Homo sapiens: one gene and its partners. The protein of the gene in region 4 interacts with the protein of the main gene of each other region in a biochemical or structural test. Each region holds a gene or a part of one and is shown on either strand. Other genes may lie near its edges. The genes, in order: LPA, ELN, LOXL1 and FBLN5.

What was found.
Region 1: the proteins of FBLN5 (region 4) and LPA form a complex in vitro, tested with the Homo sapiens proteins (one study listed by BioGRID).
Region 2: the proteins of FBLN5 (region 4) and ELN form a complex in vitro, tested with the Homo sapiens proteins (one study listed by IntAct).
Region 3: the proteins of FBLN5 (region 4) and LOXL1 form a complex in vitro, tested with the Homo sapiens proteins (2 studies listed by BioGRID and IntAct).

The regions. Positions count from the first base shown.
Region 1 is NC_000006.12:160,661,213-160,668,365, reverse strand, and holds the start of LPA (apolipoprotein(a) precursor), read left to right. Parts: upstream 1-4,090; 5' UTR 4,091-4,151; coding exon 4,152-4,200; intron 4,201-7,153. UniProt on the Homo sapiens protein: Apo(a) is the main constituent of lipoprotein(a) (Lp(a)). It has serine proteinase activity and is able of autoproteolysis. Inhibits tissue-type plasminogen activator 1. Lp(a) may be a ligand for megalin/Gp 330.
Region 2 is NC_000007.14:74,066,173-74,070,407, forward strand, and holds the end of ELN (elastin isoform a precursor), read left to right. Parts: intron 1-559; coding exon 560-604; intron 605-2,484; coding exon 2,485-2,528; 3' UTR 2,529-3,735; downstream 3,736-4,235. UniProt on the Homo sapiens protein: Major structural protein of tissues such as aorta and nuchal ligament, which must expand rapidly and recover completely.
Region 3 is NC_000015.10:73,943,410-73,950,476, forward strand, and holds part of LOXL1 (lysyl oxidase homolog 1 preproprotein), read left to right. Parts: intron 1-3,007; coding exon 3,008-3,145; intron 3,146-3,657; coding exon 3,658-3,814; intron 3,815-4,397; coding exon 4,398-4,493; intron 4,494-6,049; coding exon 6,050-6,165; intron 6,166-7,067. UniProt on the Homo sapiens protein: Catalyzes the oxidative deamination of lysine and hydroxylysine residues in collagen and elastin, resulting in the formation of covalent cross-linkages, and the stabilization of collagen and elastin fibers.
Region 4 is NC_000014.9:91,937,695-91,944,694, forward strand, and holds part of FBLN5 (fibulin-5 isoform 1 precursor), read right to left. Parts: intron 5,268-7,000; coding exon 5,213-5,267; intron 2,923-5,212; coding exon 2,871-2,922; intron 2,257-2,870; exon of another isoform or gene 2,156-2,256; intron 759-2,155; coding exon of another isoform or gene 636-758; intron 1-635. UniProt on the Homo sapiens protein: Essential for elastic fiber formation, is involved in the assembly of continuous elastin (ELN) polymer and promotes the interaction of microfibrils and ELN. Stabilizes and organizes elastic fibers in the skin, lung and vasculature.

The DNA of each region.
Region 1 (7,153 bases), on a different chromosome or scaffold from region 4:
TGGCGTTCTCAGCCTCTGAGAGGGAGGTCAAAGTTTTCCTGCTCTCCCCTTCATGTTTCCAGGTGTTCCCTGACTTGGATCAAATGCAGAGTTTGGAGGTGTTGAGGCCAAGGGGATTTTCCAGGTCAGTCGTCATCCACAATCAATGGACTGATCCTGCCGCTGGACTTACCCTGCTGCCCTCTCCCCAAGGCCCCATCAGGGAGGGCTTCAATCCTCTTGTCACCTGTGGCCTACCTGCCCTCAGAGATGACATCTCTATGTCGGCCACTGGATGGCAGCACCTACTCGCAGACCACATCAACTTTCCTGGCAACTTGCGGTAGGTTTTCACCATTATCAGGATGTTTGCCTTGCTCAAATAGCAGATTCTAGAGAACGGTGCTCCCTCACACAACTATGTAGTCCAGGTGATGCACCCTCTGCCCGATGCTTGGTAGTCAGAAACTTCCATCATGCAGCTCTGCCCAGATTGAGCTGAGCTGGCCTCTGGAGTGAGGTGCTGGGACAAACATCTTCCATGCTGCTCATGTCAACTCCAGATGCAGTCAGGTTTCTGAACCAAAGTCAATGATCTAAGTGCAGTCAAAGGCTCTGGGGGAAGAAAGAGAGAGTGCCTCATCTCTTGCCTGTGCCATGCTCGCAAAGCAAGGATTTTTGCAAAATTCTAATGAAAGCTGGGCTTGCAAAATTAGAAAACTGGATTATTTGTGAGAACACTGAAACATCCCTGGGTGTGTCCATCTGGAAAAACAGCATTTCCTCTGGCAATTTTGCAACCGTTCTATTTGAATTTGGCAAAGAAAATAAAGCAGTTTTTCACAAAAGAATAAACACAACCAGGAGAATCTTCACTCTCCCAAATTGTCAAAGAAGTATAAATTAGAAAATGAATCAGGACAATTTCAACCTGTTAGATTAGCTAATATTTAAAAATTGAACACTCATACAAGTGTGGTGAAGTGATTGTTTTCTAGTGACATTTTACACTGTCATAACCTTCTAGAAAATAAATTGGCAGTGTTATTGGGAGACAGAAATATGTCTATATAATTTATGGGAACTTAGGCTCAGAAAATATTAAGGAATAAGAATGAACTTTATGAACAAAGATGTGGAGGGTTGGAAGCAAGAGGGGGGCCAACGCGCACGGGGAGGAAGCATTTGGGCAGTGACTCCGCAGACCCAGGCTCAGGTTGAACTAGACAACCTCCTTACACCTCAGTTTCCTTAACTGTAGAGCAGGAGTGATGGAACTGCCTGTTTCATAGGACTGTTGTGAGGATGAAGTGAGATACACCACATTATAAGCTTGTGCCTGGAAAGGATAATGCTTAGTAAATGATGACTATTCTTTTTTATTGCAATAAAATGTACACAGCGTAAGAGTTACTATTTTAACCATTTTTGCAGGGTACCACCAAGTGGCATTTAGTACATTCACAGTGGTGTGCAACCATCATCATATTTCCAGAATATTTTCCTCATCCCCAAAGGAAACCTCATGCTCATTAATCAGTAGCTCTCCTTTAAAATATTAGTTATGAAGATCATAGCACTATACAAAACTCATTATGTAATGTTGAGTGAAAAAATCAGGGTGTGAAATTTTGTGATATGATGTAATTAGTGAAAGAAGCATACAAAAAGTCTGAAAATATAAAAACAATAGCAATTGCATTTCTCAGACTCTACATTTAAACATTATTCTTTATGGTTTTAAAAGCAAAGAAAAAGGTAAAGAAACAACAACCAACCGCAAAGCACCATGACAAAGCTCAGATTGTTAAATCCAGGTTTTTGGAACATAGACTCTTATATGACGTTTACACTCTCCAGGGTTCAGAGAGTCTGGCAGCATTGGGAGCTGCCTTGTGTTCTACAGCCTCACGGACAGACAGGAGGTCCATCACCACTGCTCTGTTCTTCTGGAGTTTCCTTGTGAACATGTTGTGGACGTAGTTACCATTTCTTTCATCTTTTTAAACACAGGTACCTTTGGGGCTGGCTTTCTCAAGGAAGCCCAGCTCCCTGTGATTGAGAATGAAGTGTGCAATCGCTATGAGTTTCTGAATGGAAGAGTCAAATCCACTGAGCTCTGTGCTGGGCATTTGGCTGGAGGCATTGACAGTTGCAAGGTAAGAAAAGATCAAGAGACCAAAGTTAGTCTTGTGCTCTCCTGTCTCAGTCTCAGTCCCTTAGACTTGAGTCCCAAAGTAGCGAATTCAAGTAGGATTTAATCAATGGAAGACCCCAGTCTAAGTGTTGCTCAGAAACTCCCTAGATCTGTCCCAAATGTATATTCAGATCATCCAAGGGGACTTCTTGGGGCTTGAGTTCCAGATCAGCAGCAAGGGAGCCATAAGTGCCATAACTACCTCAGACCACTCACCCTCCTGGGGTGTCCCGGTGGCCAGGGACTAAAGTGGTGATTTTTCTGGTAGGGAAGGAGGTAGAGGGTACAGGACAGAGACTAACTGCACACAATATCTGAGACTGGAGCTCAGATATTGCTGATGATCAGAGTTGGCGTGTCTCCCCAATTGATTTACAACTGGGGCTTGGATACTGTTTTAAACGGGAGGAGCCTCCTAACCATCTTGACACAACCACTGACGTGACTACACTAGAGATAGACTCTTTCCACTTAATTCTACCACTCTTGCTTTACTTCATGAGAACGAAAATGTAAGATTGCACCATGAATTCATTTGCGGAAAGATTGATACTATGCTTTTATTTTATTTTATTTTATTTTATTTTATTTTATTTTATTTTATTGAGACTCTCACCCCGGTTGAAGTGCACTGACGTGATTTTGGCTCACTGCAACTTCCACCTCCTGGGTTCAAGTGAATACTCCAGCCTCCCTAGTAGCTGGGATTACAGGTGCCCACCACCACGCCTGGCTAATTTTTGTATTTTTAGTAGAGATGGGGTTTCACCACATTGGCCTGGCTGGTCTCAAACTCCTGACCTTGTGATCCACCTGTCTTGGCCTCCCAAAGTGCTGGGATTACAGAGTTGAGCCACCGCACTCGACCCTATGTTTTATTTTTAAAAATATTTATTTATTTATTTAAGCCACAACTACTAGAATAGGAAGGATTGATATTTTATTAATTTTATTTGGTATTTATTATTTTTTTTTCTTTCCTGAGACATTCTTGCTCTGTCACCCAGGCTGGAGTGCAGTGGCACATTCTTGGCTCACTGCAACCTCCATCTCCTGTGTTCAAGCAATTCTAGTGCCTCAGCCTACTTAGTAGCTGGGATGACTGGCATGTGCCTCCACACCCAGCTAATTTTTGTATTTTTTGTAGAGACAGGGTTTTGGCATGTTGCCCAGGCTTGTCTCAAACTCCTGGCCTCAGGTGATCCATCTGCCGTGGCCTCCCAAAATGCTGGGATTATAGGCATGAGCCACCACCCCCTCCTGGAAGGATTGATATCTTATAACATAATTTATAATTACAGAAAACATGTGAGTTCACTAGGAATAAATAAATTTTGAAGATAATAAAAGATTTTCACTTATGTTGTCATTTCGGCACAGTTTGGTATAGGATGTGGAGATGTTAACATTTATACCTAGCTTGCTCGTAAACTAAGACCTGAAAGGGTTGTGTCTATCAGCTGCACCCCTGGGTAGCGACACAACCTCGGGAAGGCCTCAGCCCCCTCCTCGTACAGCACTGCCTGTTGGAAAGCTTGAGGGAGGCTATGGATGTGCAGCACTTGGCAGAGGGTCTGGTCATGGAAGTTACCAGCAAATATGAGCTACTTTTATGATTTTATTTTATCCAAAAGAAAGAGAATGAAAGAAGAGGGGAGGAAACAAGACTAATCAGGAAAGATGAAGGTCTAGGGGTGAGGGAAGGAGTAAGGAGACATAAAGGCAATGTGGAGCAGCTGAGGGGGGAAATGGCTTTCACCACTTCCCAGCATCTATTGACATTGCACTCTCAAATATTTTATAAGACTCTATATTCAAGGTAATGTTTGAACCCTGCTGAGCCAGTGGCATGGGTCTCTGAGAGAATCATTAACTTAATTTGACTATCTGGTTTGTGGGTGCGTTTACTCTCATGTAAGTCAACAATGTCCTGGGATTGGGACACACTTTCTGGGCACTGCTGGCCAGTCCCAAAATGGAACATAAGGAAGTGGTTCTTCTACTTCTTTTATTTCTGAAATCAGGTAAGACATAGTTTTTTTAAATTATAAGAATTATTTTTTCTCCCACAATGTAGTAAAAATACATATGCCATGGCTTTATGTGCAATTCATTTAATTTTTGATTCATGAAATTCCCAGTTCAAAATCTTGTATATGATTGAAAAATTCTTAAAAAAATAAGTTTAATTTCCCCGTGAAGACTGTCACGGTGCTGGAATGAATGGGCAGAAAAAATAATGGTTGATTTTTCTAATCTAAAAGAGTGTGCCTACATGATGGCCAGTCTGGCTGAAAAATAAATAGCCATTGTAGCTAACTATGCAAAGGATGGCTAAGCTCTTCGCTTGGTTCTCAGTTTCATTAATTTATATCATCTCTGTTCAGGTGCCATGCTCCCCTCACTAGCAAGTTGAAACAATGAAATAACTCTTTGAATATGTTTGGTTCCTTGACCTGTTCATGGAGTGGGACTCAGCATTTCTCTCTTTGTTATGGCCTGAGTAAGGCTTTCCATCGGTATACATTTGCTTCTTATCCCTGGAGAAATTATACACATCCATTTGCCAGATGATATACGCATATAATGATTCAACAAATACTCAGGGTATTTGTTGAGTGGGTTAGGTCCCCACATTTTTATACATACATACACACATACACACCGTGTGTGATTGTGAATGTAAGTGTGTGTCCTTTACAAATACTAGCTTATTTAGCTCATGGTATAGGTAGGGTAGCATAGTCATCCCCATTTTATAAACAAAGAAATCTAGACTTAGGAAAATCATGTTATTTGTCTCGTGACCAAATTCCCAAATCAAGGAAATAAAGAAACCTGGATTTAAGCCAGATTTCCAAGAAAAAATCTAGGGCTCTTCTCACTTTTTCATCTTTGTTCCAACATTTGAAAAAATAAATCTAAACACATTCCAATGTAACTGAAGAGCAGGTTAATTGTTTGCCACTTGCAGAATCCAATTAAGAAGAGAGAAGTCTGGTATAAAGAAAGTGATTTGCTTCCAAAGCTAGCTTAGGGGAAGAAATGCAGCAGTCCTGCCGTACTACTTCACTTTAGGAGCAGAAAGTGGCACTTTTAAAAGGCAACAGAGGAGGCGAGCAAGGATTCAGGGGTCCATGCTAGCTTGGGCACCTTATCCACCAGGTAGTTGAGCAGTTGCCTGCTGGTGCCTTTGTGAGCAGGGTGTTGTCCCTTGAGGCAAATCTCTGGAGGGTGAGAGTTTTGTAGTGGGCATGCTTTGGTTTATAAATCACCTGTGAACTCAGGAGTTCCATCTTGAAGCACATACATAGTTAGATGAACTTGCCCTGCAGGGAGAGTCTGATGAAAGGGAGGTAGATGCTTGCAATTTAATCTATAAATTACCAGATAAAATTTTACAAGTTGACTTTAAAGTCAAACACATTTGAATTTAGTGGAAGCCATTCAAGAAAATATCAAAGAAAATACAGAGCAGGAGAAGATTAAGCAAAGAGTTTTTTGGGGAAATTGGTGTCTATGTCTGTGTGTGTAGGGAGTGCAGGGGATATGAATATTCTATTTCAGCCCATGGAAACTAGGATGTAGATCACTGTGAACTTATTCAGCAGGCTACACCCAAAGGCTAGAACAAACTTCTCTGCCACAGGATTAACATATGTTTTAATCGACCTGGGGGGCACATTCTCTGATAAGCTCTTTTGGAAAGCCAGGCTTTCTGTGGACGTGTTATCTTTCCAATGTGTGCTGGAATGCCCGGGGAGAGGAAAAAGTTTCTTTTACAGCCATGCTCAGTGAGAAGCGGAGAAACATCTTCTATTCACAAATTGCTAAGTCTTTTACACATGCAAATATGCATACACATTCACACACCACAGTGAGGAAGAAATTCTCACACCATTAATAAAATACATTTACTTCAGTAGCAATATACATCTACATTTTGCCTATAATATAAAAGTATTTTTCCTATTAAAAGATTTGTTTAATGTTTCTTCACCAACAAATAAACCCTATTAAATCCCCATTGCCATATGAGCCCTGGAGGTGAATCAGAGAAACAAAAGGATTGTGGAAAAATCATCAGGTTAAAAAAAGAAAAATTGATTCTGTTTTGGGATATTTCCTAGCAACATGAGCTGGGGAGGGGATCTCAGCAGTGATGCTCTATGAAGCATAATAAAATGACACAGTTACAGGTAACTTAGTTAAAGGGGGAAATAAATGGAAGTTTCCTCTTTTTGAATATCAATTGTAGCCTGCTCTGCTACATTTCAAAAACACTCTTCAAAATGTTTAACTGAACTCACTGTAGGAAGCACCTTATTAATTTATTGTGTGTTTTGAAGTCACACTGTGAGCTATAGAATTTACCCAAGCACAACTCTTCCTGGAAAAGAGAGTTCAAATGAGAAACAGTGCGGGGTGAAGACATGGATATGGGCCTAAAATATCTATTTCTCAATGATATTTTGATATATCTATCAAGTGCTTTTTAGTGGATTAGGTTCAGAATGCATCAGCCAATGCCTGTTCAATAATCCAGTTTTCCAGCATAGAGCATATTAAATTGAGGAAGGACAAAGTCACAGAGGTGGGGAGCAGGTGGACTGTGGCCAAGGACTTTGCATGAAACAGTGAGCGTGCATCCTCCTCCTTGCCCTGCCCTCATGGTCTGTGTACTCTCAGGAGGTCAGGACAGGCCTTTCTGAGAATGAGAATCTGTTCATCTGCCTTTCTACTGGATACTTGTCATCGGCATACAAACACATGTTCTCTGCAGTGTGTCATCTTTCAGAACCTCCCCTGACCCTGTATTCCCTAGAAGTCTCGCTGCTTTCAGAGCCAGGCTTCTCTCCTGCTGCCACCCCCACTGCTCTTCTAGTCACTCTTTAACCCACTCCATCTGCATGTGGCCCCCACCACACCCCTCAAAGTGGTCAAGGTTGTCCTGTTGCTTAATTCCATGGAAGCTTG
Region 2 (4,235 bases), on a different chromosome or scaffold from region 4:
TGGGGACAGTGCCAGGCTGAGCTCAGGGTTGAGGCCATGAGGTGCCACACCTGGTTGCTAGGTGGCGGCATGTTGTGTTGAGAAAGCCACTCTGGCTGTAGTGAGGGGGATTGGCTGGGCGTGGTGGCTCACGCCTGTAATCCCAGCACTTTGGGAGGCCTAGGTGGGTGGATCACTTGAGGTCAGGAGTTCGAGACCAGTCTGGTCAACATGGTGAAACCCTGTCTCTACTAAAAAAAATGCAAAAATTAGCCAAACGTGGTGGACGCCTGTAATCCCAGCTACTCGGGAGGCTGAGGCGGGAGAATCACTGGAGCCTGGGAAGCGGAGGTTGCAGTGAGCCAAGATCGCACCACTGCACTCCAGCCTGGGTGACAGAGCAAGACCCCATCTCAAAAAAATAATAATAAAATAAAATATAAAAAATTATATAGTGGGGGGGATGGAGAGGAGGTGATCCCAGACAGAGGTCTTGGGTGAGCCAGTGCAGGCAGAAAGTGATGAGGCTGGAGTCAGTTTCCACCCCTACCAACCCACCAACCTGAAATCTCTCCTGCAGGAGTGGCAGCAAGACCTGGCTTCGGATTGTCTCCCATTTTCCCAGGTATGCCAGGCTCCCTGCCCCTGGGCCCTGCCCTGGAGCTGCAGCCACCTCCTCCCTCCTCTCCTGTGCCATCTCCTGCTCAGAAGGGCTGAGCCAGCACCCAGGGGTGGACCCCACAGCCTCAGGTCACACGAGGCTGGACCCCGAGCTGAATGTAGAGCCTCCCCTCCTTCTTGCTGACCTCTTATAAACACAGGGAACATTTGCTTTTTAAAAACACAGTTCATGGCCAGGTGTGATGGCTCACACCTGTAATCCCAGCACTTTGGGAGGCTGAGGAGGGCAGATCACCTGAGGTCAGGAGTTCAAGACCAGCCTGGCCAACATGGCGAAACCCTGTCTCTATTAAAAATACTAAAATTAGCCGGGTGTGGTGGCTCACGCCTGTAATCCCAGCCCTTTGGGAGGCCAAGGCAGGTGGATCACGAGGTCAGGAGATGGAAACCATCCTGGCTGAAACGGTGAAACCCCGTCTCTACTAAAAATACTATAGTCTTCTTTTTTTTTTTGAGATGGAGTCTTGCTCTGTTGCCCAGGCTGGAGTGCAGTGGCACGATCTTGGCTCACTGCAACCTCTGCCTCCTAGGTTCAAGCGATTCTTCTGCCTCAGCCTCCCAAGTAGCTGGGACTACAGGCATACACCACTACGCCCAGCTAATTTTTGTATTTTTAGTAGAGACGGGGTTTCACCATATTGGCCAGGCTGGTCTCGAACTCCTGACCTCGTGATCCGCCCGCCTCGGCCTCCCAAAGTGCTGGGATTACAGGAGTGAGCCACCACGTCCGGCCGTCTCTACTAAAAATACAAAAAATTAGCCGGGCATGGTGGCGGGCACCTGTAGTCTCAGCTACTCGGGAGGCTCACGCAGGAGAATGGTGTGAACCCGGGAGGCGGAGCATGGTGTGAACCCGGGAGGCGGAGCTTGCAGTGAGCCGAGATTGCGCCACTGCACTCCAGCCTGGGCGGCACAGCAAGACTCCGTCTCAAAAAAAAAAAAAAAATTAGCCAGGTGTGGTGGTGCACGCCTGTAATCCCAGCTACTCTGGAGGCTGAGACAGGAGAATTGCTTGAACCCAGGAGGCGGAGGTTGCAGTGAGCTGAGACTACACCACTGCCCTCTAGCCTGGGTGATGACAGGGCAAGACGATTGCGTCTCAAAAAAAAAAAAAAAAAAAAAAAAAAACCTTCAGAGGCAGATGTCTGTTCCTGCCCCACTCTCTGCTCACTGCCACCAGGTGGCGGTAAGGAGCCATATCTGGCTCAAGCAGGGTTAGGAACTGCTCCGGGCCGCGCTACTAGACAATGGTGCCTTACCTAATACAGACTGATGCCTTGAAACAGGGTTCACCCATCAGACTATTCCCAGGAGGGGGTAGGAATCCTGGGTTTGAGTCCCAGCTCAGACACTATGTGGATAAGACCCTCTCTCCCTCTACTGGGCCTTGATTTACTTATCTGATGCCCTCTCAGATGTATGGGTCCACCCCACTCCCTGAGAGGGCCGTCTCCTGCAGACACTGACTCTCCCTTCATCCCATGTTCCTTGATGGAGCTGCTCTTAGCCTTTCCCCGAAAGGCTTCTTGGAGCAGTGGAGCCAGGAGCCAGTGCCAGGCCCCGTCCTTCCCCAGCCAGGCCCCATGACCTGCCCCCTTTTCTGCGAGCGTTGGTTTCATCCAAGTAATATCTTGGGGGCTTCTCCCGCCCCATCTGTCCAGTGGAAGTTGATGGCATGGATCAGGTCTGAGTTTGGCCTGGGGCCATGACTTGGCTTCTCTTGGCTTCTTGGAGCCTCCATTCGAGTGGGTCAGAGCAGGCGGGGATTAGAGCCGAAACTGAGAGGGGCCGGACTCACAGTGATGTGCACCTCCTCCCGTCCAGGTGGGGCCTGCCTGGGGAAAGCTTGTGGCCGGAAGAGAAAATGAGCTTCCTAGGACCCCTGACTCACGACCTCATCAACGTTGGTGCTACTGCTTGGTGGAGAATGTAAACCCTTTGTAACCCCATCCCATGCCCCTCCGACTCCCCACCCCAGGAGGGAACGGGCAGGCCGGGCGGCCTTGCAGATCCACAGGGCAAGGAAACAAGAGGGGAGCGGCCAAGTGCCCCGACCAGGAGGCCCCCTACTTCAGAGGCAAGGGCCATGTGGTCCTGGCCCCCCACCCCATCCCTTCCCACCTAGGAGCTCCCCCTCCACACAGCCTCCATCTCCAGGGGAACTTGGTGCTACACGCTGGTGCTCTTATCTTCCTGGGGGGAGGGAGGAGGGAAGGGTGGCCCCTCGGGGAACCCCCTACCTGGGGCTCCTCTAAAGATGGTGCAGACACTTCCTGGGCAGTCCCAGCTCCCCCTGCCCACCAGGACCCACCGTTGGCTGCCATCCAGTTGGTACCCAAGCACCTGAAGCCTCAAAGCTGGATTCGCTCTAGCATCCCTCCTCTCCTGGGTCCACTTGGCCGTCTCCTCCCCACCGATCGCTGTTCCCCACATCTGGGGCGCTTTTGGGTTGGAAAACCACCCCACACTGGGAATAGCCACCTTGCCCTTGTAGAATCCATCCGCCCATCCGTCCATTCATCCATCGGTCCGTCCATCCATGTCCCCAGTTGACCGCCCGGCACCACTAGCTGGCTGGGTGCACCCACCATCAACCTGGTTGACCTGTCATGGCCGCCTGTGCCCTGCCTCCACCCCCATCCTACACTCCCCCAGGGCGTGCGGGGCTGTGCAGACTGGGGTGCCAGGCATCTCCTCCCCACCCGGGGTGTCCCCACATGCAGTACTGTATACCCCCCATCCCTCCCTCGGTCCACTGAACTTCAGAGCAGTTCCCATTCCTGCCCCGCCCATCTTTTTGTGTCTCGCTGTGATAGATCAATAAATATTTTATTTTTTGTCCTGGATATTTGGGGATTATTTTTGATTGTTGATATTCTCTTTTGGTTTTATTGTTGTGGTTCATTGAAAAAAAAAGATAATTTTTTTTTCTGATCCGGGGAGCTGTATCCCCAGTAGAAAAAACATTTTAATCACTCTAATATAACTCTGGATGAAACACACCTTTTTTTTTAATAAGAAAAGAGAATTAACTGCTTCAGAAATGACTAATAAATGAAAAACCTTTAAAGGAAACTGTGTCTTAGCTTCCTTCGTATGATTTAATCTGCCTTCAACTCGCTGGCCTGGATGGGGATAAGGGCTCTGCTTCAGGGAACCTCCACCACCCACAGTGTATTTGAGAGGTTGCCCAACCAAAAGCCCCTGCTGCTGGCTTCTGGGGCATCGATCTTTCTCCAAGTTTGGCTTGTACTTTAACAATGAGGCCAGGAGTTTGAGACCCACCTGGACAACATAGCTGTCCAGTGGAGAATCACTTTGTACCATATAGCTACAAAAAAAAAAAAAATTACCCAAGATTGGTGGTGGTGCATGCCTGTGGTCCCAGCTACTCAGGAGGCTGAGGTGGGAGGATCGCTTGAGCCCAGGATTTCGAGGCTGCAGTGAGCTATGATTGCGCCACTGCACTCCAGCCTGGGTGAGACAGCAAGATCCTGTCTCGAGAGAGAGAGAGAGAGAAACAGAAAGAGACAGAGAGGAAAGATGGCTGACCTAAGAAAATGCAGAAGACAGTC
Region 3 (7,067 bases), on a different chromosome or scaffold from region 4:
CCCAGGAGTATGGAGCCATGTCCACAGAGGACAGTTGTGGCTTTGGCTGGTCCAGGCTGCCTCTGCCTAGTCACAGCAGGGGCAGTGAGCCCGGGGGACAAAGAAGTTTCAGTTATATGTTGCACTGGAAAGAGGGGAAGGAGACCAGTTTCCATGAACCTAGAAGGTGAGCACAGCTGGCTCGCCATTATTCATGGGTGATCCTGCCTCTCGCAGTGTTTGCTTCTAATTTATAAGCAGTTCATATTCTGCTGGAACATAGGTGCTTTGCGGATACCTCCCTGGGCCAAAATAATTAGTTAAGATTATGTTATCTGCTTCTTTTGTTAATATCCCTTTATGTTGAAAGCACCTATTTTTCTTAATTACCTGCTTTTTGGACATTTGAACTCTCTGTTTAGTTTGACTTTTTACTATCTAGGAAACTCTTTAGAATCTCAACATTTTCTCATTTCTAGAACTTCTAGTTCACTGCCACTCTAAGTAGCTGATCATAAACCCTTATCTGTCTGTAACAAGATAAAGAGCTTGAACTAGAATGTAACTCAACTCACTCCTTCATTGAGAAAGTCTTGCTTTAAAAAAAGAAAAAGTATCCGCTGAACTAAGCAGAGTGATTAGGAATGTTGTCGATGTACATTCTGGTGCAAGTTCCCAATCCCATCCCAGACTGGCATCAGTGTGGGAACTGCCCCTGGTCCAGGGACCGCAGGCTGAGTACCACTCAGCCAGCCTGTCTGGGCAGTTCTTGTCTTGTTTCAGTTGTCTTGGGGAAGAGAGCATAATGGTCCTGCTGGAATTCCTCCAGCAATGAGGAACTTACAGCCTCCATGACAGCCCTTCCAGTCTTAAGAGAATTAGTCAAAGTCAAACTATTAACATCACTGCCTCTTCATGAAGGATCCTGAGTGCCCGGACCTGCGCTCCCAGCTGGGGAGAGGAGGCAGCCTGTCCTCTGTCCTGGAGGGTCTCCTGGTACAGCTGGAGAGAACAGCCCTCACCTGTACCCCAGTGACAGAACCAAGACACGAGTGGGAAAAGAGCCAGAAGGACTGGTTCACAGGCCAGGGCTGCTGGAGGTCAGAGGAGGGAGGGATCAGCAAGGGCTGAGGCCTCAGAGGAGGTGGGCGTGGGAGTTCAGACCTGGAGAATCCTGCAAAACTGGAGCCCTGGGGCAGGAGGGCCCTCTGAGATCATTTCAAGTATGGGCCGCAGGCTGGTGCCAGTTCACATGCTGCAGGCAGAACCCAGAGAAGAAAAGGGACCAATTCCAAGTCTCACCACCAGTTTGTGGCCAAGCTGGGCCTAGAACCTAGACCCTTATGGTTTCCCACGGTGTGCTGAGCCGAACAGAAGGGCAGGATTTAACTGAACAGAGGGAAGGAGGATGTTTTGTTTCAACCCAGACATAGACAGATTCCAAGCCTCCCCCAGACAAGGCTGAGGGCCTTTCATCCTGGCAGACAGTCTGAGCCGCCTGTTGTCCAGACATTCTCTCAAAGAGAGCGCTAATCCCTACGACTGGCCACCGCTCCCCTCTGGCCTTAGGATCGGACCTTAATGAGTGCCAGGGAAGAGCCCCTGAGGCCAACAGAGTTAGCTGTCAGCCGTCAGCTAAAGAGGGGAGGGGCCTTCAGCCACCCCTTCCTGTTCCTACCACACATGTGTGTGCATGTGTGTGTATGTGTGCATGTGTGTGTGTCTCCCCTCACTGCAGCCCCTCGTTCCTCTTTCCACCCTTTTCCTTTTGTCACAAGGCCTACCTCAGTTGGAAATCTGGAGTCAGCAGGTGACTTGCGAGCAGGCAATTCATACCAGACCCATGTTCCCTGAATGGAAAAGGGCAGGTTGCCAGCCTGAAGCCATGCAATCAGGGAGAGGTGGTCTGGACCCAGTGCAAGATGTAGATGGTATCGGGCTGTGCTGCAGTCAGTGCTGTTAGAGCTCACAGGCAATCCGGATCCTCTATGTAGAGCAATCAGGGCAGACTTCCTGGAGGAGGGGACTTTTGAGTTGACCCTAGGATACTGGGTGAGTTTTGGAATTCTGGGTCAAGCAAACAGCATGGGCAAAAGTATGGGTCAGGGAAAAAGTTCAGCCTGTTTGGAAAATAGGCTTTGAAGCAGGAACCCAGGGTGTGTGGGGGAGTGGAAGGGCAGATGGGACTAGAAAAGTGAAGAGGCTTTGACCAGAGGACTTCACGTCTGTTTTTCAGGCCCACACCCAAGACATGGCATACTTTGGTCAACAATTAGGGCTCTGTCTTGTTGTCAGAGACTTATCAGAATCTCCTGGATAGGACTTTTTTTTTTCTTTTTTTTAGAAAGGGGGTCTCACTCTGTTGCCCAGACTGGAGTGCAGCAGCACAATTATAGCTCATTGCAGCCTCAAATTCCTGGGCTCAAGGGATCAGTCTCCAAGTAGCTGGGACTACAGGCATAAGCCACCTTACCTGGCTAATTTTTTAATTTTTTAAAAATTTCTTTAATTAAATTAATTTTTTAAATTTTAATTTCTCACTATGTTGCCCAGGCTGGTCTCAAACTATGGGCCTCAAGTGATCCTCCTGCCTCGACCTCCAAAAAGCTCTGTAATTACAGGCATGAGCCAAAGTGCCTGGCCCCCGCAATAGGGCTGTTTTTCAGTGGCCCTTCAGAGATTGCTATGTGCTCCTGCACCTAGGGGCTGACCCCAGCTGAGTCACCTGCAGGTATCAGGGACACTGCCATGCTTGGTACCGCTTTAGAAAGATGCTGTTGGCAGCTGGCGGCCACATGGTGGAGGCCAGAAAGGAGGGGACAGCCAGGATTTCACGGGGTCAGAAGACAGAGGAAGAGGCCTGAGCCTCCGCCACAGTTCGAGGAGACAGAGGAGAAGATCTTCAGGGACAAGGAGTGGGGCTGCAGAACCAGTGGCCAAGGGCTGGGGGTGGGGCTGAGGGGGCCCATGCTGGGTTCTGGTGTCACTGTGCCCCAACCCCCCCTCATCTCCCCCGCCGTCCCTGCAGCACAGCCTATGCCCCTGAGGCCACCGACTACGATGTGCGGGTGCTACTGCGCTTCCCCCAGCGCGTGAAGAACCAGGGCACAGCAGACTTCCTCCCCAACCGGCCACGGCACACCTGGGAGTGGCACAGCTGCCACCAGTGAGTGGGGAGGGGCTGGGCCCGTCCTCTTCCACTTCTCCTCTGGGCCAGGGACCTTGGTGCCTGAGCTCCCCTCCCACCATGAGCACTCTGGGAGACACAGATACTGGATTAGAGGGCCCGGGGAGGTGTTACCTGCCAACTCTTTTCACTGGGGCAAGTGTTTCTCAGAGAAGCCTTAGCCAAAGCTAGGCTGGAAGATGGATATAGAAGGATTGGTCTCAATCAGGGATGGAAATGTCTAGAATACAGGGCATTGCCCAGTGAGGCCATTACAGGTGGGAGCCCAAAAAGGAAGTGAGGGGTCTAGAGCATGTGCTGTCCTGGAGTGACCCAGCTAGGTGGGGAGCACAGAGGGGCCACCCCGCAGTACTCAGGAGACAGGAGAACCTAGACCAGCCAGGAGGCTGTGCCACAGCAGGGTCACCTGAGCCCATCTCAGGATGGGGACAGGATGAGAGGCCCAGGGAAGACTAGGCCCTCTTCTTTCTCCTTCTCTCCTCTGCCCCTAGGCATTACCACAGCATGGACGAGTTCAGCCACTACGACCTACTGGATGCAGCCACAGGCAAGAAGGTGGCCGAGGGCCACAAGGCCAGTTTCTGCCTGGAGGACAGCACCTGTGACTTCGGCAACCTCAAGCGCTATGCATGCACCTCTCATACCCAGGTTGGGCTGGAGAGATGGGGTTTGGGGCATGGGAGGATAAGGAGTTGGGGAGGCAAAGAGCGAGGCCCGCTGAGGCCCGGCAAGTGCCAAGGCTTCTGGCCACTCAGCTCTGCTCACAGTGAAGGTCTTCTCACCAGTCCTCAGGCTGCCACACTGCCCTGCAGGGACTGTTCCCTCCCTGCCCCAGCCCCTTTCCCATGTTATTCCAGGTGATCTGCTCGTGGAGAGAAGGAAACATCGCAACAGTCTGGAGAGCAACACGTCCTATTGGCCTGTTCACCCACCCATATCCCTCTTTCCATCAGCCACCCTAAATATCCACAAACTGTCCATCTGTCCTGTCTCTTTTTATCCATTCTGCCATCCATCTCGTCCCTCCCACCTGGCTATTAGATATCTGTCTTTCCTCTGGTCCATCTAGCCAGTGGCTTTAGGAAGGTGTGGACCCACCCTGAGCAGTTGCCCTGGGCCAGGGTCAGGGGAGAAACCCAGGGGAAGGTGGGCCAGAAACTCCTGAAGGTGGGCGTGGGGTGGCTCTGGGAAACAAGCAGCATCACAGCCGCTCCTCTTGTCCCTTTCCCAGGGCCTGAGCCCAGGCTGCTATGACACCTACAATGCGGACATCGACTGCCAGTGGATCGACATAACCGACGTGCAGCCTGGGAACTACATCCTCAAGGTGGGCCTCTGGGTCTGGGGCTTTCCCTCCAACCTGATGTTCATGTCCAATGTCCCCCCGTTCCTGAAAGAAGCTTCAGCCTCTGGGCCTGTTCCCTTCTCCCCAGCTGCCGAGCAGAGGCAGCATCTGAGGCATCACTTGAGGTTTAGGCTTCCCAGCCGAAGATTTAGGTCTCAGGCTGACATAGCCTCTCTTTCCATAAAGAACCCAGGGAACCTTTGCCCCAGCTGTGGTAATGCCAGAGGCAGTGGTGATACTGTCTCCCTAAGTGACAGAGGACCAGGGAGAGCAAGAAAGACTTGGAGAGCCATGTGGTCTATCTTCCTGTCTTCGGACAGGGCAGACTTTGTATCATTTGGGAGACAGATGAGAGGCCCTCAGCTCCTTATAGGGACCCCTGCAAAGCCAAGGGCTCCTGTGACTAAGACCCTTTTAGCCTGAACCCCTCCTGCTCTAATGGACACTCACTCCATCACCTCTTCCCTTGGTTGAGGGAAAAGTAGAAAAGCATATTAACAACACACATCCAGACTTGGTACATCCGTGTAGGCCAGGTTGTCATGGGCCCACCTGGGGAAGCCATGTCTCAGCCTCCTCCACACAGGTATAAAATGAGTAGGGATCATTCCACCAGTTCATCTGGACCCACTCAGAAGCAGAAAAGCAGCTCAGTAAAGGCAGAGCAGTGAAGCCAGGTTTGCAGGCGGAGGCCTTCCCTGCAGAAAGTCAGCAGGTGGAGAGATGCATCCGGCAGCGGTTCTCTGCAGTTCCCTCCTGAGTGCTCTTCAGCAGGCTCCAAGCTTGCTCCTCCAGGGCCTGGGGTTGTCCAGTATATTTTTTCTTTTCCTCATTCATCCACTCAATCAACATGTAGGAAGTCCCCTCTGAGTTCTAGGCACTAGACACACAAACCACATAAGCAATGCAGTTCACAGTCCCTGCCCTTTGGGAGTGTACCAGGATTTGAAAGTTGCATCCCTGCATCTGTTCTTAGATGTTCTGCAAATAAAGCTGGCCCTACCCTAGTTAATCCAACATTTAAAAGTGTTGTATCCCAACAGCTCCTTTTCAGACAAAAAGCACAGATCATACTTGGGCCATCATCTCAGTGAATGTTGGGCACGTGGGGCTCCAGAGCAGGGGATCAGACAGGCCCTCGATCAGTCACCTAGACAGGGATGCATAGGGAATGACTTTGAGCCTTGGATTTGGGGAGACCAGGTGTTGAATCCTGGCTCAGCTCCTCATTACTGCATTCCCTCGGGCAGGATCCAACCTCTCTGACCCCAAATGCCCCATGCGGGGCCCACCTGGCATAGGCTCTAGCTCTAGGGAAACATCCAATCTTCTGATAAGGGGGATTAGATGATGTTTTCTTGGATTACCAGCTGCCTCTTCTTTCCCCTCTGTGTCTCTCTAGCAGTGTGTCTCTGTTCTCCCTCTCTCTGTCACCTCTCTGTCTGTCTGTCTGCCTCTTTACCACCTTCTCTGGTGAGCAGTTGAGGTGCAGCCCCCCTGACTAGACTCCCTTTCTCCCTGTTTCTCTTCTTCCTCAGGTGCACGTGAACCCAAAGTATATTGTTTTGGAGTCTGACTTCACCAACAACGTGGTGAGATGCAACATTCACTACACAGGTCGCTACGTTTCTGCAACAAACTGCAAAATTGTCCAGTAAGAGTTTGCCCACCACCCTTCCTGGCTCCGTCCCTTTCCTGCCTGGGGAGCAGGCAAGGCCACCTGAGATACCTAAGATACCTGCACTTTAGGTCACCTTGATGGCCGAACGCAGCTGCAGCAGGGCCCATCAAAAAGAGCCTTGTCCGTGCCAACCCCAAGCTGAGTGTTTACGGTGGGGCTCAGGCCGTAGGGTGTTGATCTGGGGCTGCATCCTGTGGCTCCCTGAGATGTCCCAAGTGAAAACCAGCAGAAGGCAGAGTCATTTGATGCAAGGCCATGAGCTCTGCAGTCCCAGTTCCACAGCTTCCTCGCTATGTGACATTGGGTTACTTCCCTGAGCTACTTTCCTCAACTATAAAATAGGTATTTCCACATAGGCTGGCAATGAGGATCTACAGGCCTGATGTCTGCATGTTCACAGTGGCACACAGTGAACAGCAGCTGTGATCATTAGTGTCCTTTTCAAGTGGACTGGATTAAACAGTCACAGATTAGAAGTGATTCTGGTTCAAAGGAGCCATCTTCAGTCCCTAGGCCCCCATTGTAGAAGAAGTGCCTAAAATCTGGGCTTGGGATTTTGGCACATGCTGCTGGGTAGGGTCCTCAGTCTTTCTCCTGATTCCCCATGTGAAGTAGTTTGCAGAGGGACCCCTTGCTTACAAGCTCACAAGGAAACCCCACCACACTCCAGATCGAAGCAACCCTTTTCCATTAAAAAAAAAAAAAAAAATTAGTCCTAGAGCTTTCAGCTTTAGTTCATCAACTGGGAGAAAGGTGGTAGAGATCTTAAGGCCCAGAGAGGTATCTTTCCCTAAAAGTGTGTACTTATTAATGGATGGCAGGTATGAGAGATTAAGCCTATGACTATGGTCAGGGTGTGGTGTATGGCCAGGGTC
Region 4 (7,000 bases):
CTCTGCAGAGAGCCCCCACCAGCAAGAAGGCCCTCACCAGATGGAGATCCTCAACCTTGGACTTCTCAGCTTCCACAATTGTAAGAAATAAATTCCTCTTCTTTATAAATTACCCAGTTTTAGGTATTTAGGTATAAGCAACAGAGAACGGACTAAAACAAACCTGTACTATCATTTGCACATACTCTTTCTTTAAGTAAGCCCATATTTGAAGCCCAAATAAATGTATATTTAAAGTCTTACATGACTACAGCAAGTGAAAACTAGCATAAGTAGAAGGTAACAGTAAAAATAAATATACACTATTAAAATAAAGAGTGTTTATCTGCAGATGTACCATCTAATACATCAAGGATCCTCGTGTGCACATACTATACTCTGAAAATACTGGGATGGGCCTAACAATTGTCTCCACTTCTACTTCAAGTAACAGTGGTCAGGGGAGAAAGAGTCTCTTGCATCAGGAAAAGACAAGGCTTAGGCTGGGCACAGTGGCTCATGCCTGTAATCCCAGCACTTTGGGAGGCCGAGGCAGGTGGATCACCTGAGGTCAGGAGTTCAAGACCAGCCTCCCAACATGGGGAAATCCCATCTCTACTAAATACCAAAAATTAGATGGGTGTGGTGGCACATGCCTGTAATTCCAGCTACTTGGGAGGCTGAGGCAGAAGAATCGCTTGAACCCGGGAGGCAGAGGTTGCAGTGAGCTGAGATTGCGCCATTGCACTCCAGCCTAGGCGACGAGAGGGAAACTCCATCTCAAAACAAAAACAAAAACAAAAAAAAGAAAAAAGAAAAAAAAGAAAAGGCTTGACTGACAGCTAGTTGCTTGTTAAGAAAGCAGAGCTTTGCTTTCAAGTCAGCTCTGTGCCAGCCAACAATTTCTAGCCAGGCTGGGCTCTGCTTGTTATGTCTGGAAGGGGAGAGGTGGACTCTCTAGAAAATCAGCCTTGCTAGGGTACAGACAGGGGAGGCCTGAACTGTGGCTCCAGCGAGCAGTAGACATGATCCCGTATACCGAGCCATGTCAGCAGCCTTGGAGTCTGCTCTGTGCGGGGCTAGAGACTGGAGACCACATGCCTGCACCCGACAACTCACCCCCAGCATCTCATCTGAGAAACTCACACCCAATCCTACCAGAGGTAAAAGCAATGGCAAGGTGCAGAATGCAACAGCCTGTTCTCCAGCTTGAAGCCTGAAGCCATCGCTGAAATGGGGGGCCAGAAAAGAAGGCCACTGCTCTACTCTTGATTCCTCATCAAATCTTCAAATCAAAACACCTTATTTTAAAATCAAAACGTAAGCCCAGATTTCCCAGGACAGGGTTTTATTCCTCACTGTTCATCGATTTTTCAAACCATCTATCTCCCCTCTGGAGCATGGTGACGTTAGCTCAGAGAAGACAAATGATTTTGCTTAAATTAAATATAATTTAAAAGCTAAATACTTCCCCTAAGATGGGGGCAAGTAGGGCTGTCTTCTTCCGTTCATATGCCCTATGCTCTGTCAACAACAAACTATTCCATGCTCTGAGTGTCCTTTCCACACCTGGTCCTTGTTAATGCTGTTCCTTCTACCTGGAATGGCATTTCTTAGGATCCTATTCATCTTTCAATACCCAATTCAAATGTGACCTCCATTAATTTTTTTTTTTTTTTTTTTTGAGACAGAGTCTCTCTCTGTTGCCCAGGCTGGAGTACAGTGGTGCGATCTCAGCTCATTGCAACCTCTGCCTCCCAGGTTCAAACCATTCTCCTGCCTCAGCTTCCTGAGTAGCTGGGGCTACAAGCACATGCCACTACTCCTGGCTAATTTTTTTGTATTTTTAGTAGAGACAGGGTTTCACCATGTTGGCCAGGCTGGTCTCGCACTCCTGCCCTCAGGTGATGCACTCGCCTCGGCCTCCCAAAGTGCTGGGATTACAGGCGTGAGCCACCGCACCCGGCCCCATCGATGCTTTATTGACCCTGGACATAAGGTATTACTTTCTCCTCTTCTTTTGCAGAGTCCATTGCAAAAGATGGCATGCTAAGAGAATGACCCCCACAAACACTCCAAAATCTCTTCCTAGTCCTCAGAACCTGTGAATAGGTTGGGTTACACGGCAAAGGGGAATTAAGGTAGCAGCTGGAATTAAGCTTACTAAGCAGCTGACCTTGAGATGGGGAGGTTATCCTGGATTTTCTGGGTGGGCCCGATATATTCACAGGAGTTCTTAAAAGTAGAAGAAGAAGAGGCTGATTGGTCAGAGAGATGCTACAACAGAAAAAGAAGAGATTCAAAGTGAGAAACGCTTGACTCGCTGTGTTGGCTTTGAGGATGGAGGGAGGAGCCACCAGCCAAGGAAAGCAGGAGGCTTCTAAAAGGTAGGAATTGCCCTCCACTGACAGTCAGCAAGGAAACAGAACCTCAGTCCTACAACCACAAGAAACTCAATTCTGCCAACAACCAGAAGGGAATAAAAGTCTCCCTTAGAGCCTCCAGAAGAGCACACAGCCCTACTGACACCTTAATTCTATTCTGGTGGAGACTCAAGTCAAACTTCTGACCTACTGAACTGTAAAATCATACACTGGTGTTGTTTAAGCCACTAAGTTGGTGGTAATTTGTTACGGCAGCCCTAGGAAACACCAATCCAATAGAAACCTTCAAGAGAACAGAGATCAATTCTTTCACCCCTCTCAGTGCTTAGCTCAAGGCCAGGCACAAAGAAGGTGATCAATAAAAGGGCACCACTGACTTCAGTCATTCCATGTCACTGTATTCTCCCATGGGCATGGCTAATCATTGAACAACAGAGAAAGAAATAAATAGCACTGCAACTGGGCTGAATGCCTCCACCCCAATGAAGGATCCACAGTGGCTCATACCTAAACACTGTCCTGACTGGCGATCCAGGTCAAAGCCATTCGTGCACTGTGCCTGCAGGGAAGGAGAGAGGAGAAACAGGCAAGGTCATTTCACACCATAAAAGTCTTATTGCTGCAACACAGAAAGTTGGGGAAATGGAGCAAAAAAGAAAGGCCTCCAAAATACCAATACCTGTATTATAACCCCTATTTGTTCTTCTAAAATTTTTCCTTGTAATTATTTTATACTTAGAACTACTTTCTAAACTCCCCACACCAGGCCAGGCGCAGTGGCTCATGCATGTAATCCCAGCACTTTGGGAGGCTGAGGAGGAAGGATTTCTTGAGCCCAGGATTTTGAGACCGCCCTCAAGACCCCATCTCTGTGTTTTTAGAAAAACTTTATTTAAAAAAAAACTCCCTGTACCATTGCTTCATAGCTCCCATTTTTAGCAGACAGGTTTCAGGGTTTTTAATGCTGTAGTTGTGAAGAGCAAGAGGAATCATATCTGCTGAGCCTAATGTGGCATGCTCCCTGTTCATCCCCTTTCTGGGAATGAATAAGACTGCTTTTAAGGGCAATGACTCTTTCTTTAGGTGCTACCTCGCCTTCAGAGTGTCGAATATGAGTTATTTGCCCCCATGAAATCCTCTACCTGATTTTGATGTCTGTACATAAATAAAAGCTACACAGAGATGTGGTCAGTTTTCTAAGAAAAGTTGAATTGAGTAAATTTCTCCATTTCAACCTCAGCAAGATGACGACATAAAGATGCTTCCAGAAAGAGATAGATCTCAACAATTCCAGAGGGTTGTAGCTTTTACATACAACTTGAGCTACAAATGTATGTACTTAAAAAAAAAATGTGTTGGGTGGACTCTTCAGGAAGACCCCAGGGCCTGACATTTTCTAGGAGCTCCCATCCCTGGCCTTTTCTACAGCTTCGGAGGTTGGGCTTCGCTGAGCTGTTGGTTGATTTGCAGAGATGATGTATATGGCCTGCACTCCCGGGAGAGGGTTCAGGGGTCCCAGGGAGTTGGGGCAAAGGAAGTGGAACAGACGAGCCAGGAAGCTGTGCCGGGAAGCTGGGAGGCCAGGAGATCCAGGTTCCAGCCCTGGTTGTCAAGGACTGGCATAGGTTCAAGACTGCTGGACCAGGGCATGGCTTCAAATTCTCACTCTAGCCCCTACTCTCTGCGTAACTTTTCTATGCCTCAGTTTCCCCATCTGTAAAATGGGGGGGTATGTACGTAGTTCAAAATGGTGGTAAGGACGATGTATGTTAATCTATATAACGTGCCTAAAGTGCAGTAAACACGACCCTGAACCTCTGCCCTTGGGGCCTACCTGTCTTCATGTGTACACCATGAGGCTGCCTTAGAAAACCGCAAGGTCTAAAATTCTTTGTTACTCCTCCCAAAATCCTTCCCATTGCCAGTGGCCTGAATATGCTTCAAAATTCTTAATATGAAGAGAGAAAATGCTCCCCTACCTGCCTGCAGCCCTCAGCCTGCTCAGAGATAGGGCTTCTCTCACTTCTTTCCTGAGCCAGAGACACAGAGAGGCCACTCGGAGTTTTCAGGAGGGATCTGCCCACATTTCAGGGCTGACACACAGGGGTCCATCTCTCCTGTTGCTTAAAATAAAGTCCAGGATGCTGCAAGCTTCTTCCAGAACCCCTAAGGCCCTGAGCCTGGCCTCACCCACCCCCTTCTTACTCCTCTGAGGGGTTTCAGCCCAGGGATGGGCCCTCCTAGGTTTGGAGCTGAATTATGCAACACTACATGCTGGGATGTTTGGGTAACACCCACTTCCTCTCCCACCTCCTCCAGGAGGGGTGTGTCTGTGGCAACACATGCAGACCCGTGGGGGTCCTCAGGTGCCATTGCCCAGAAACACTACAGCATATTTTACTTTTCAACACTGAAGGTAGGTTGAGGCCTGCTGTGAGGGGCACAAATGAGGCCATGTGATCTGATTAAAAATGGATGCTGGGCTTAATACCTAGTGATGAATTGATAGGTGCAGCAAACCACCATGGCCCACATTTACCTATGTAACAAACCTGCACATCCTGCACATGTACCCTAGAACTTATAATAAAATAGAAAAGAGTCTTGGACTGGGAGTCAGGAAACTGAGTACCAGCCCCAGCCTTGTCACTTACAAGTCATGTCACCTGGGCCAAGTCTCACTTTCTCTGAGCTTCCACTGTTAACCTCTGAGAATGAAGAGCTCAGATGAGGTCAACTGTAAAGCCACTCCCACCCCCACAAACCTAGGGTTCCGTAGCGCAAGGCTGGACTCCCTCACCCCGGATTTTAATACGCTTGTAGATATTTTTTAAAAATAAAAATCTTACCTGTGCATTCCCAGGGCTTGGAAGACAGAGAGCCAGAATGGTAACAGTGAGTATCCTGTGGAGGTGAAAAGTCAAATATAAATGCCCAAGACAGATTCAGGTCTAGGGGAGTGTGGGTCGCATGCGGCCCGTGACGTGTAACGGTGATATCACCTTGGGCTTGTATGGGGTGGGGTGTGCTCCAGGGAGGTCATGGTGGTTCCAGACACCGCGACCACCCAAGCAGAACCACACCTCTTCTACTTGCCTCCTGCATTGGGATCATGTGTTAGATCACACTTTTTAATAAAGGGTTTGGCTGCTTCAAAAAAAAAAGCTAAGGTCAGGTGCGGTGGCTTACGCTTGTAATCCCAGCACTTTGAGAGGCTGAGGCAAGAGGATTGCTTGAACCCAGGAGTTTGAGACAAGCCTGGGCAACATGGTGAAACCCCATTTCTACAAAATTAAAAAAAAAATTAACTGGGCATGATAGCACGCGCCTAAAGTCCCAGCTACTCAGGAGGCTGAGGTGGGATCACCTGAGCCCAGGGGGTTTGAGGCTGCAGTGAGCTGAGATCATACCACTGCACTCCAGCCTGGGTGACAGAGCGAGACCTTGTCCTCCCCCCACCCCCCAAAAAAGCTAAAACCTCCCACTATGGTATTAACCAGTTCCTTGGTCTTTATTCTTTATGCGAGATGTGCTTGACTTTTGAACATCTTTATGCTGACATGATTACAGAGTGAATAAGCCATCATCATGCCCTCAAACAGTGAAAGGAAAAGAAAGTGAGAATGTGAGGCACTTTGAGTGGCACCAAAGAAAGGTGTCACAGGAAGTCACTGAACCAGAGCATTGAGTCCACATGTGTGAAAATCCCCCATCAGTGGATGGGTTGGGGTGGCCCTGTCCCCTGAAGAGTGTGGCCTGCGGGAACTGCTGCCAGCAGGTCCTGATGGAGGAAAGGACTCGGGGAACCTGCACAGCCCAGGGAAAATGAAACCCGCGGGAAAACAGGAGGAGGAGTCACGCACCCTGGGCTCAGTTCTGCCATGCACAAGACAGTGATGCTCTGGGAGTCTGCAACTCTGCCCTTCGCCACGCACAGGCTTTAATCCAGTAAGATTGTGGCCAGCAAGATTGCTTTAAAAATACAAAAGCAGCCGGGTGTGGTGGCTCATGCCTGTAATCCCAGCACTTTGGGAGGCCGAGGCAGGAAGGTCACCTGAGGTCAGGAGTTCGAGACCAGCCTGGCCAACATGGTGAAACCTTGTCTCTCTACTAAAAATACAAAAATTTGCCAGGCATGGTGGTACACGCTCTGAGACAAAGCGAGACTCTGTCTCAAAAAATAAAAACAAAATAAAAATACAAAATCTCTACTACTTCACACTCATGAGGCTATTAAAAAATGGAAAAGAGCAAGCGTTAGGGAGGATGTGGAGAAAGTGAAACTCCTGTGCACTGTTGGTGTAAATATGGTGCAGTCTCTATGGAAAACAGTATGATGACTCCCAAAACACTAAACATAGAATTTCCATGTGATCCAGCCATTCTACTTCTAGGTATATACCCTCAAAAAATTAAAAGCAAGGACTTGAAACAGGTATTTGTAAACCTGTGTTCATAGCAGCATTATTCACAATAGCCTAAAGGTGGACGCAGTCCTTCGATGGATACATGGATAAACAAAATGCAGTCTGTACACACAAGGGAATAGTATTCAGTCTTAAAAAGGAAGGAAATTCTGACACATGCTACAATATGAATGAACCCTGACTGTATTATGTTAAGTGAAAAAAGCCACT